Linked DNA regions of Homo sapiens: regions 1 and 2 are each reported to be linked to region 3. Evidence: microRNA targets listed by miRTarBase, many of them from high-throughput screens and not tested one by one. Region 3 holds a microRNA gene; each other region holds the end of a gene's coding sequence.
The links. Region 3 holds the annotated microRNA hsa-miR-512-3p (AAGUGCUGUCAUAGCUGAGGUC, at 2,181-2,202, shown strand). A microRNA usually pairs through its seed, bases 2 to 8, with sites in the 3' UTR of a target mRNA and lowers its output. Matches are read on the target gene's strand: a 7mer-m8 pairs with bases 2 to 8, a 7mer-A1 pairs with bases 2 to 7 and ends in A, and an 8mer does both.

Region 1: the mRNA of SYNPO2L is a reported target of hsa-miR-512-3p. Seed matches in the 3' UTR shown: 7mer-m8 at 2,052-2,058.
Region 2: miRTarBase lists CRISPLD2 as a target of hsa-miR-512-3p. The part of its 3' UTR that is shown has no 7-base or 8-base seed match.

Annotation. Positions count from the first base shown.
Region 1 is chr10:73,644,035-73,647,440 of GRCh38, forward strand. SYNPO2L (synaptopodin 2 like) reads right to left here. Exons shown (of 4, transcript NM_001114133.3): 4 at 852-3,406. The coding sequence ends at 2,684. Among named protein-coding and RNA genes, the nearest start is that of MYOZ1, 4.3 kb to the left of the region's middle. RefSeq lists an enhancer at 64-113.
Region 2 is chr16:84,905,702-84,909,107 of GRCh38, reverse strand. CRISPLD2 (cysteine rich secretory protein LCCL domain containing 2) reads right to left here. Exons shown (of 15, transcript NM_031476.4): 15 at 1-2,520. The coding sequence ends at 2,466. Among named protein-coding and RNA genes, the nearest start is that of LINC02176, 21 kb to the left of the region's middle.
Region 3 is chr19:53,667,033-53,671,502 of GRCh38, forward strand. MIR512-2 (microRNA 512-2) reads left to right here and starts at 2,125; the gene lies at 2,125-2,222. All of the region lies in intron 2 of LOC107985342 (a long non-coding RNA gene), which reads left to right. RefSeq lists enhancers at 1-347, 1,236-2,124, 2,125-3,012.

The DNA.
Region 1 (3,406 bases), not on the chromosome of region 3:
GAGGTTGCAGTGAGCTGAGATCGCACCACTGCACTCCAGCCTGAGCCACAGAGGGAGACTCCATCTCAAAAAAAAAGAAGAACTATAAATAGCTAAAGGTGACTTCATCATCACTACCACCCTCACCCTCAAAAACAAAAACAAACTGAAAGTTTGATCTCCTTCAACTGAGTACCCAAAACGACTGAGTGGGTGAAGACAGGCTATTTAACCTATGGTCTCTGAGATCTTTTTTTGGAATTCTAAGACAGTGCACTTGGAAGAGTCTGCGGCCTGGGTCTGATTATTGGCACAAATGTGCCCTCTGCTGGCAGAATCAGAGCAATGGCACTTTCCTTCTCTGAAGTCTAATTCTCACCTACCTCCAACGCCCTCCCTTCTTTAGTAGTCTCAATTCAGCTTTATTCTTCCCTCTCCCATCCCACCTTCCCCTCCAGCCCTCCAGCCATTGCTTTCTCTTCATTTACTTCCCAGAGACTGTTTAATATGGTTGCTTCCTCTAAGGAGCGAGGAAATGTTGATAGCAAAGGGCTCAGAGGGCCTTTCCAACTTCTCTGAGTTCTGTGAACTGAAGCCTTACCTAGAAAGTATGAGGCAAGGGAGGGAAAGGGGAGAACTTGGATGAAGACTGTGGGGAGAGGGAACCAAGAAGAGTGATGGAGGTGGCTAAATCAAAGCAGGACAGAATTTGTATAAAAGAGCAAAAGACCTGGGAACAAAGGGCAAAAGGATGAAAAATGGGAGGGCAGGAAAAGAGACAGATCAGAAATCAGATCAGGGGAATGGGTTAAAGAAGATTAAGGAGAGATCAGGATTTAGGAATAAAACTAGAAGATAACAGCAACAGAAGGTATGGGGCATAAATTTATTCTTGTGCACAAACCAAAGTATTGTGACTCACACCCAACAAGCAAAGGAAATTATCACTTTCCAGATTACACAGCAAACGTAGCTGGTGGTGGTCTTGGTGAGAAGGGAGTCCATACTAAGATTGGAGATCAGGACCTGAAGCTGAAAAGAAGCAATAGCTGGGGTTTTGAGGGATGGGGTGGGACTGAAAGGAGGTTTTGGCTCTGGGTATTTCCCTACTCTTTCCCAGGCAGTCATGGCAAGCTGCAGAAGACACACTGAAGAACAGACTCAAGGAAAATCACACAGACACCAACCGTTCTTTCAACACTCAGCACACACCCTCACACCTCCCTTCCACCATCATTCCCTTCCATTCTAACATTCTTCTCCCTCAAATTTTTTTCCAATCCCCCTCTCACACACGGTTGGTTTCTTGTTACTCAACTTTACCTTCTCCCAATATGGCATTGTCCCTCGCCACACTTCTGTCTGTGGCTCAATCACTTACACTCATTTCTGCCATGCTTCTGATTTTGGCCTCACTTGCCACACTCTGGCTCTCTTCTCCTTTCTCTCAAGCTCATGAGGCAATGAAGCCAATGATTTGTTCATTCTCGGAGGGAATTTTCTTTCTTTTTTTCATTTCCTGGGTACTGGGTTGCTCAGCACTGGCCTCTCAAGTTGCTAACTTTTTGAAATCCTGAGGTATAGAATTCTTTGTTCTATTCCTGGTCTAGCTGGTATAACTCAGCCCATGCAAACTGTCCTGGCCCTTCAGTCTTTTCATGCTCCATAACTTTCACAAGATGCTGTACACCTGCTACAGACATTGGTCTCTAAGGAGTTATTCTCTAGTGAATCTCTTTCTCCCACTCAACTCCATGTGGGGATATCTGACCCTTCTATCAGTACAACGATAAGACTCAGATTGGGTCTTTTGTTTGTTTGTTTGTTTTGAGACAGAGTCTCGCTCCGTCGCCCAGGCTGGAGTGCAGTGGCGCAATCTCAGCTCACTGCAAGCTCCGCCTTCCAGGTTCATGCCATTCTCCTGCCTCAGCCTCCCGAGTAGCTGGGACTACAGGCGCTCGCCACCACGCCCAGCTAATTTTTTGTATTTTTAGTGGAAATGGGGTTTCACCGTGTTAGCCAGGATGGTCTCGATCTCCTGACCTCGTGATCCGCCCGCCTCGGCCTCCCAAAGTGCTGGGATTACCGGCGTGAGCCACCGTGCCCGGCCTCAGATTGGGTCTTTATTTTGACCTCCCCTCTTATTCATGCCTTAGACGGAAGAGCACACACACACACACACACACACACACACACACACACACAGGCCTAGGTATATGCCAGTCAAGCTTGGGAAAGCAGAGTGGGGGGTGGGGGTGGCTTAGTGCAAACAGGGGTCAGTTCAGTCCCTTTGCTGTGTGCCTGGTGGTGAGCTTCTTGCCTGAAGTCCCAGTGGTCACTTCTGCTCTGTTTACTTCTCACTGAACATTAAAATGAGGCCCAGGGAGAAAAGCACAAATGTCAAGGAAGAGAGATCTGTGGAGGAATATGGGTGGAGAAGCCTGGAAATAAAGACAGAGATCCAGGAAAGGAAATGCAGAGACAAAGAGAGGCAAAGATACCAAAGCAGACATACTTGGTTGGAAAGCGGCAGGGAGGTAGAGAGTGAGGAGGAAGGTGGGGGAAGGGGACATCAACTTGGAAACCATCTCTGGCAGGAGGCAATTTAGCTTCCAGATGCGTGACAGGGGATGGGATAGGGTAGGAGAAGCAACTTTAGGAACTGGATGTTCCACCTCTCCTTGGTCCTGGGACCTGTGCCTGTTCACTGGTGCCCTGCCCCAGGCCTCCACACATGAGCTTGCAATCCTGTTCTGGTGGCTGAAAATCGGGGCCTGGCTACCTGGAAACCGCAGGAGCTGGGAGAAGCCCCAAGGCCCCTGGGAGCCTCTGGAGGAGGGGCTGGGCTAGGAACAGGGGCTGAGGCCAGTTCTGTTCTCCAGATGGGCTCATCCAGTGTAGTGGCTGCTCGGGGGGCAAGCACAGTGGGAGCCAGGGGTTCTGCAGTGGGCTGGGGTGCCGGAGTGGAAAACCGGCGAATCTCCTGGACTCGGGCAGTTTTGGGGGACCCTGAGGCGATAGGGCCAGGAGTCGGGGGAACCTCATCAAAACAGAACATGGCAGTTTTAAGTTGATAGGGCTGATGCCGCATAAAATCTAGAGCCTTGATGCCCTGCTTGGGTGTTGCCCGAGGCCCCTGGGATTGGGCCTTAGGGAGAGTTCGGGCCGCCTGGGGGAAAAAGGGAGAGAGCAGTGGGTTGTAAGCAATAGGAGGCGGGGCACGGATGTTGGGTGAATATTTCCAGGAAGGGGGCAGAGACGGGGTAGGAGAAGGACTTCTAGGCCGAGGGCCAAGACCAGGACCAGGTGTACCTTCCACCACATACCTGTCCGCACGGCTCTGCCGCTTAGCAAACAGCTCCCCACCCCTGCCCTGCAGCCTTGGTGGCTCAGGGATTCCAGCCGAAGAGGCTGCCCCATTCACGAG
Region 2 (3,406 bases), not on the chromosome of region 3:
ACACAGGAGAGGTGGTGCTAGGGACAGGGCTTATCATTTATAGTCTTGTTTCCATTTTCTGAAGACAAATATTCCAGTTTCAAAATGTTTGTGGGGATGATAAAGACAGCCAGGTCCATGGCCGGGCGCAGTGGCTCATGCCTGTAATCCCAGCACTTCGGGAGGCCAAGGTGGGTGGATCACCTGAGGTAAGGAGTTCGAGACCAGCCTGGCCAACATAATGAAACCCCATCTCTACTAAAAATACAAAAATTAGCCGGGCATGGTAGCTCACGCCTGTAGTCCCAGGTACTTGGGAGGCTGATGCATGAGAATTGCTTGAACCCGGGAGGCGGCAGTTGCAATGAGCAGAGATCACGCCACTGCACTCTACCTTGGGCAACAGAGTGAAACTTGGTCTCGGGAAAAAAAAAAAAAAAAAAAAAAAGACAGCCAGGTCCTGCTCTGGGCAAGGACTTTCTATCCTGCTAGGAAGGCCCAGTGAAGGAGGCATTAAGGAACCCGGGGACTTTATTTTTAAATGATGGGGTCAACTCACACTGGAAGTTTCAAGTCTCCCTTGAGTGGGATGCTTTGGAAGCGAGCCCACTGGGATCGTCCTGGACCCTTCACTAATTCTGCAAACCCCACAGGGCGATCTAATTTATCTTGCAGACACAGACACAGCCACAAAAGTCCAGCAGCAGAGCACCCAGCACCCAGAAGTTTCCCAGATGTTTGGTGGTAACTGGACTCACGACCTGACAGGCTGACCGAATTCTTCCTCTCCGACATTTGGGGCTGAGGAGTCAGTACCTATGAATTACGACTAGACTACAATGCACAAAGCACGTAGTCCTGTGAATTTTAGCTCAGTCAAGCTAAGAGTTGAACTGCTTTTTACCAACTCCTTAAAGGGGTGGGTTTTTGTTTTGTTTTAAACCTATTTACCTTCAGATTCTGCATTTATTAGAAAGGCAATCAAAGAAAGAAGGCATCACCTAGGTGCCCAGGTAGAATTTCTTGTCCAGTCTACAGTATCTTAGTTTTTGACTTTCTGCTAGTTCTTTCACCTAAGAAATATTTTGAATCAAATTTGAAACTAGCATTCACCAAAGTGATCTATTGGCTGGCCCGGTGGTAGAGAGTGGAATTTTCACCTTCTGCAAAAAAATGCTATTTACAAAAGGGTACTTCATTTCACTGTGGGCTTTTGGTCTGGGCTCATGAAGCACTTTTATAGAGTGATGGCAGCCAGGGTGTACTACACTCCTTGGCGCCTCGGGAACGTTTGGCAAGAGTCGTTTCACGAAAACAGGAAAAGAGATCCTTCTAGTGTATTCCCATCTCTCGCTGTCATGAGGCCACAGACGGTTTCATAACCACAAACTGAGCTGCTAACCTCGGTGAGGAATGTACCAAAGACTCCATTCCTCCCACGGCTGAAAAAATAGGTCATCGGGTGCGTGGGGAATCTGCACATTTAATTGTCATTTTTTAAAAGCAGCAAAGAGCAGGCCTTCTTTGGTTGTTCTCAGACATCTCGTCTCAGTGGAACCTTACGAGACCAGGAGTTAAGACTTGGGCTTCAAACAGGTTCGCTTGCAAAGAAAAGTCCTGGGTGTGAACCAGGACACGTAAACCAGTCCGAGGCAGGGTGGGAGCCACAACGGGTAGGGGGTAAAGAAAGGGTCCCGATCCTTAGTCCTCAATGGGACCAAAGGTCACGGCAGAAAACAGGTGGGCCATGAAGACGAAGGGCCTGACAAAGACAAGATACATCTCTGAAGTGACTGCTGAACTCTACATAAACCAGCACTGCTGTGTATAGAGCCATCCTGAATGCGGCCATTGAAGGGGGCCTGTGGCGGGCCGCCAGCAAGGACACGTGCCAGGGCGGAGCCGGGGTCTCTCATACCCGCAGCCCTCTTACTCTAGCCCATTTGTCTGTCTGACCAGCAAACATTAAAACCATTTTCCTCTATTGGTAGGGACGGACTGTGTTTTTTATTTTTAAATAACTACCTTCTACTTCATTCCTGAAACTCATTGGCGCTTGCTCAAAAGGCCTCTTCCGACGCCGTGAATGCTTCACAATTGTGAGCTTCAAATGGTTTGTTCTTTTGGCAGGGAGGTTGAAATCAACTTCCTCCACCAACAGAAGAACACATAGCAAGGAACATTTTGGGCAACTGTCCCCTTTAAGAGACAGCTCAGATCTCTAAAGGAGAGAGGACGTCCAGATGGAGACCCCCAGGCCCCAGCAGGATCAGGCACCAGGGAGTCCGGCTGAGCACCTTGGGATGCTGTTGCTTCAGTGAGGGGATGAGATGTCACCTCACCCACAGGCCACAAAGTGATGGACACTGAACATCAGTCAAAGGAAGTTTCCTGACTCTCCATATACCCCGCAATGACAAAATAAAAATAAAAGCAAAACCCCGAAGCCCTCCTGAAGACGCCCCTTCTCCCCTGGTGCTGGAAATTCACTGCCTGACAGCAAAGATCCGGAAGGCCTTTCCATCCCGAGGAGTCCCCAGGCTGAAAAAAAGAAGAAAGAGGGCCCGTTACTGAGAGATCTGGAGGGCCTCCTGCAGGGACTCTGGGTGGGCAGGGAGACCTGGGTGCCTCCTGCTTGCTCCCGTAGTGGAAGAGCCATGGCCAAGGGACACTTCCTTGAAGCCGCCAGACACAGAGCCTGCCTTGAGTTGAGAACAGGTGGCAAATCCCATTTTCTCTGCACATGAGCATCCATCTGATTCTAGGTCAAGGCTGTTAAGTTATTTCCTTTTAACTCAGGGATCTGCTGGACCCAGTCTGTCTGGATTGGACTCACCCTCCGAGAATTCTGCTTGGTTTCACTACCACCTGTCAACCCGAACAGTGGTGTCTTGGGAGAGATGAACAGGTGCTATCTCAGCACTACTGCATATGCCAGGTGCTTCACCGCCTTCCACCTTCCTCCTGAGGGAGCTGTTATCGCTCGTTCACAGGGGAGGAAACGGAGACACCAGGAAATAAAGAGATTTACCCAGGGTCCCATGGCTAGTAAAAACTGCCCTCTCACAAGAGGAGTTAAATCCTTCAGCTAATCAAAGATGGTTTTTAAAAAAGAGCTTTAGGCCAGGCGCGGTGGCTCATGCCTGTAACCTCAGCACTTTGGGAGTGAGGCGGGTGGACCACCTGAGGTCAGGAGTTCGAGACCAGCCTGGCCAACATGGTGAAACCCCATCTCTACGAAAAATACAAAAATTAGCCGGATGTGGTGGCAGGCGCCTGTAATCCCAGCTACTCGGGAGGCTGAGGCAGAAGAATCACTTGAACCTGGGAGGCGGAGGATGCAGTGAGCCAAGATCAAGGCATTGCACTCCAGCCTGGGGGACAAGAGTAAGACTTTGTCTCCAAAAAAAAAAAAAAAAAAGAGCTT
Region 3 (4,470 bases):
AATTTCGAGGCAAGTCACAACACAGCGAAAGAAGCAAGCTGAGGCCTGGGCTCAATCCTCCTGCTTCGTCCTCCCAAAGTGCTGGGATTACACGCATGATCCCCTGTGCCCTGCCAATATTTGGTAATTATAACTGGTGGTCAGCTTACAATGTGGCTATTTCCAGACCATAAGTACCAACTCTATAGGTGCCTTGTGAGTGAGTGCCTTGCTACTTCAAGCAGTTACTTTCGTGTGTTATTAAACCAGAGGCCTGCTAAGCCTCTGTGCCTAGTAAAGATTACAATTTGGAATGTCAGCCCCCAGCTGTCCTGTGTGATTGGCAGGTTAGGTCCTTGTTGAACCAGAAGCAACTGGCCAGTCGTACAGATGCAACTTTCGGACCAGTAGAAAATTTCTATGTCAACCTGGAGACATAGGGATTGTACCTTTCTGATACCCTATTAGTAAATAAATAGTATTTATTTATAAATTATGTATAATAGTATTTATCTGAATATATCCCAAGCAGCCCAAGTGTGTTCCAGACATAACATTTTTATTTACATTTAAATATCACTAAGATTAGAGATACACATCTAACTCAGGTTTTCAACTAGTCTTACCATTGAAAGAACTATTGTGGCAGGACGCAGTGGCGCACGCCTATTATCCTAGCACTTTGGGAGGCCGAGGAGGGCGGATCACAAGGCCAGGAGTTCGAGACCAGCCTGGCCAGCATGGTGAAACCCCATCTCTACTAAAAATACAAAAAAATTAGCTGGGCATGATGGCACAGGCTTGCAGTCCCAGCTACTCGGTAGGCTGAGGCAGGAGAACTGCTTGAACCCGGCAGACGGAGGTTGCAGTGAGCCGAGATCGCGCCACCGAACTCCAGTCTGGGCAACAGAGCAAGACGCTTGTCTTAAAAAAGAGAGAGAAAGAACTACTTGTTCTCTGTAAGCCATGCTGGTTTAGCCAAAATGCTGCAGTTGTGTATGGCCAGGGACGTTGAGGCTGCAGTGAGCCGACGGCTGTGTTGCCGCTCTGCAGTCTGGGGGACAGAGCAAGAACCTGTCTCAAAAAAACAAGAAGTTAGTGAGACAGACATGCCGTTCTGTTACTTTTCCCCTTGCTGGTTCAAAGCTAGGTAGTTGCCAATTAAATGTAATCTTGTAGAGCAAAAATGTTTTTCATTTTTTGAGACAGGATCTCACTCTATTGCCCAGCCTGGAGTGCAGTTGTGGGAACTCACAGCAACCTCCACCTCCTGGGTTTAGGCAGTTCTTCTGCATCAGTCTCCCGAGTAGCTGAGACTACACCGGTGCCCAGAGGGCAGTGGCCAGATCTTGGCTCTCTGCAACCTCTGCCTTCCAGATTCAAGTGAGCCACCTCCGCCTCCTGAGTAGCTGGGACTATAAGTACGTACCACCATACCCAGTTAATTTTTGCATTTTTTGTAGATAAGGGGGCTAAGTATGTTTCCCAGGCTGGTTTCGAAGTCCTGTGCTCAAGCAATCCTTCTGCCTTGGCTTCCCAAACTGCTAGGATTACAGGTGAGCCACCACACCGGGCCTGTCCACGTAATTTAAAAGGTGCTGGACGTGTGCGGTGGCTCACGTCTGTAATCCCAGCACTTTGGGAGGCTGAGGTGGGCGGATCATGAGGTCGGGAGTTCGAGACCAGCCTGGCCAATATGGTGAAACCCTGTCTCTACTAAAAATACAAAAATTAGCCAGGTGTGGTGGCAGGCGCCTGTAATCCCAGTTTCTCAGGAGGCTGAGGCAGGAGAATTGCTTGAACCCAGGAGGCGGAGGCTGCAGTGAGCTGATGATCGCGCCATGGCACTCCAGCCTGGGCAACAGAGCAAGACTAAGAAAAAAAAAAGAGAAAAAGAAAAAGAAAACAAAGTAATTTAAAAGGTGTTATTCAGGCTGGGGATCCCCAAAGTGCTGGGATTACAGGCATGAGCCCCAGGGCAGGCCTAGGATTTGCATTACAAGGCTCTGCATTGTTCCTGAGAACTGGAGAGAATGCTCAATCTACCTTTCACTATTGAGCAACATTCAGAAGTCAGTTTTAAATCTCTTATCTTCTGCATAGAGGATGTGCCTGCAGTTTCCAGGTACTGGACAATACAGGGAGGGTACTTCTCAGTCTGTGGCACTCAGCCTTGAGGGCACTTTCTGGTGCCAGAATGAAAGTGCTGTCATAGCTGAGGTCCAATGACTGAGGCGAGCACCGAAAAAACACCATGGGGGGGAGGGGGGGCGGGGGGCTCCAGGAGCCACTGCAGGTAAAAGCTAAACCGTGGTGCTTGTTCTGCGCCATAAACTGGACTTCAGCCCAGCTTTAAGGAAATGACCAGGGTCTCTGGGTTGTGAGGCTGGGTTCCGTAGCAGCTATAATGCTTGGATTCAGGGATAGCCTGGGTCACACCATTGCCAGAGAAGAGGCAACCAATCCAGACCCCAAAAGCGGGTTCTTGGATCTCTTGCTGGAAAGAATTTCGAGGCAAGTCACAACACAATGAAAGAAGCAAGCTGAGGCCGGGCGCGGTGGCTCACGCCTGTAATCCCAGCACTTTGGGAGGCTGAGGTGGATGGATCACCTGAGATCACTATTTTTCTTTTTATTTTCTGAGATGGAGTTTCACTCTTGTTGCCCAGGCTAGAGTGCAATGGCACGATCTCGGCTCACAGCAACCTCTGCCTCCCGGGTTCAAGCCATTCTCCTGCCTCAGCCTCCGGAGTAGCTGGGATTACTGGCATGCGCCACCACGCCCAGCTAATTTTGTATTTTTAGTAGAGACGGGGTTTCTCCATGTTGGTCAGACTGGTCTCCAACTCCCAACCTCAGGTGATCCGCCCGTCTCGGCCTCACAAAGTGCTAGGATTACAGGCGTGAGCCACCGCACCCAGCCTGTTTTCTGCATTTTTAGTAGAGACAGAGTTTCACTATGTTGGCCAGGCTGGTCTCAAACTCCCGACCTTGTGATCTGCCCGCCTCGGATTCCCAAAGTGCTGGGATTACAGGCGTGAGCCACCGCGCCCGGCCTTATTTTTCTTTTTTTTTTTTTGAGACAGGATCCCACTCTATTGCCCAGCCTGGAGTGCAGTGCAGTGATCTCAGCTCACTGCAACCTCTGCCTCCCGGGTTCAAGCAATTCTCCTGCATCAGCCGCCCAAGTAGCTGAGATTACAGCCGTGCCTGGCTTATGTTTTGTGTTTTTAGTGGAGATGGGGTGCCACCATGCTGGCCAGGCTGGTCTTAAACTCCTGACCTCAGTTGATCCTCCCACCTCAGTCTCCCAAAGTGCTGGGATTACAGGTGTGAGCCACCGCGCCCAGCAAGCATAAGATTTTTTGACACATGGAGGATCACTTGCTGGATGTGCACTGAGAAGTAATGTGCCCATTTCCCAGCCACACTCTCCCAAAGGCTTTTACAGGCGCTGTCCCCGTGAGGTGGTAGAACAGAATGTCAGAATTCAACACATTCCAACACTGTCTTCTGTTGAGCTGTAGGAGGACTGCCTGTGGAGGGACATGGGTTCTATGCTACCTTGCAGGTTTTCCCTGGGGCTTGTGATCACTGTCTCCTTGGTGACATGCAATCTGGGAGTGCTTTCTGGAGTCTGATAAGAACATACTGGCACATTGCCTGTGACGTGTGGGACCCAGGCATTTTCAGTGCTGAGGTGAGTCCTTGATTGTAACTGATGGGGACTGGTATCTTAACTCCAGGTTACTGAAGACTAGGAATTTCTTGCCTTACAGTAAAATTGCAAAGAAGAGTAGCATAAGAGGTAGATCAGAAGACTGCAGAATAGATTAACAAATGAATGCCCAAATGAGGATGCTAAACTTGGATTTGCATCAAGAAGACAGATATTGGTCGGGCGTGGTGGCTCACGCCTGTAATCCCAGCACTTTGGGAGGCTGAGGCGGGTGGATCATCCTGGCTAACACGGTGAAACCCCGTCTCTACTAAAAAAATACAAAAAAATTAGCCGGGCGTGGTGGCAGGCGCCTGTAGTCCCAGCTGCTGGGGAGGCTGAGGCAGGAGAATGGCATGAACCCAGGAGGCGGAGCTTGTAGTGAGCCGAGATCGTGCCACTGCACTTCACCCTGGGCGACAGAGCGAGACTCTGTCTCAAAAAAAAAAAGGACAGGTATTAGGATAGTTTTGAAGCCCACTTGCTCCTATCATGGCATTGAAGCATCAGTTTGCTGCCAATCACTCCTTCTTCTGTGTTCATAGACAGGACTGTGGAAATGTACACTTGGATTCTTTCACAGGTAATGCTGAGAAATTTAAAACCAAAAACGGCCGGGTGCCGTGGCTCCTGCCTGTAATTCTAGCACTTTGGGAGGCTGAGGCGGGCGGATCACAAGGTCAGGAGTTCGAGAGCAGCCTGGCCAATATGGTGAAACCCCATCTCCACTAAAAATACAAAAATTAGCCTGGCATAGTGGCGGGCCCCTGAAG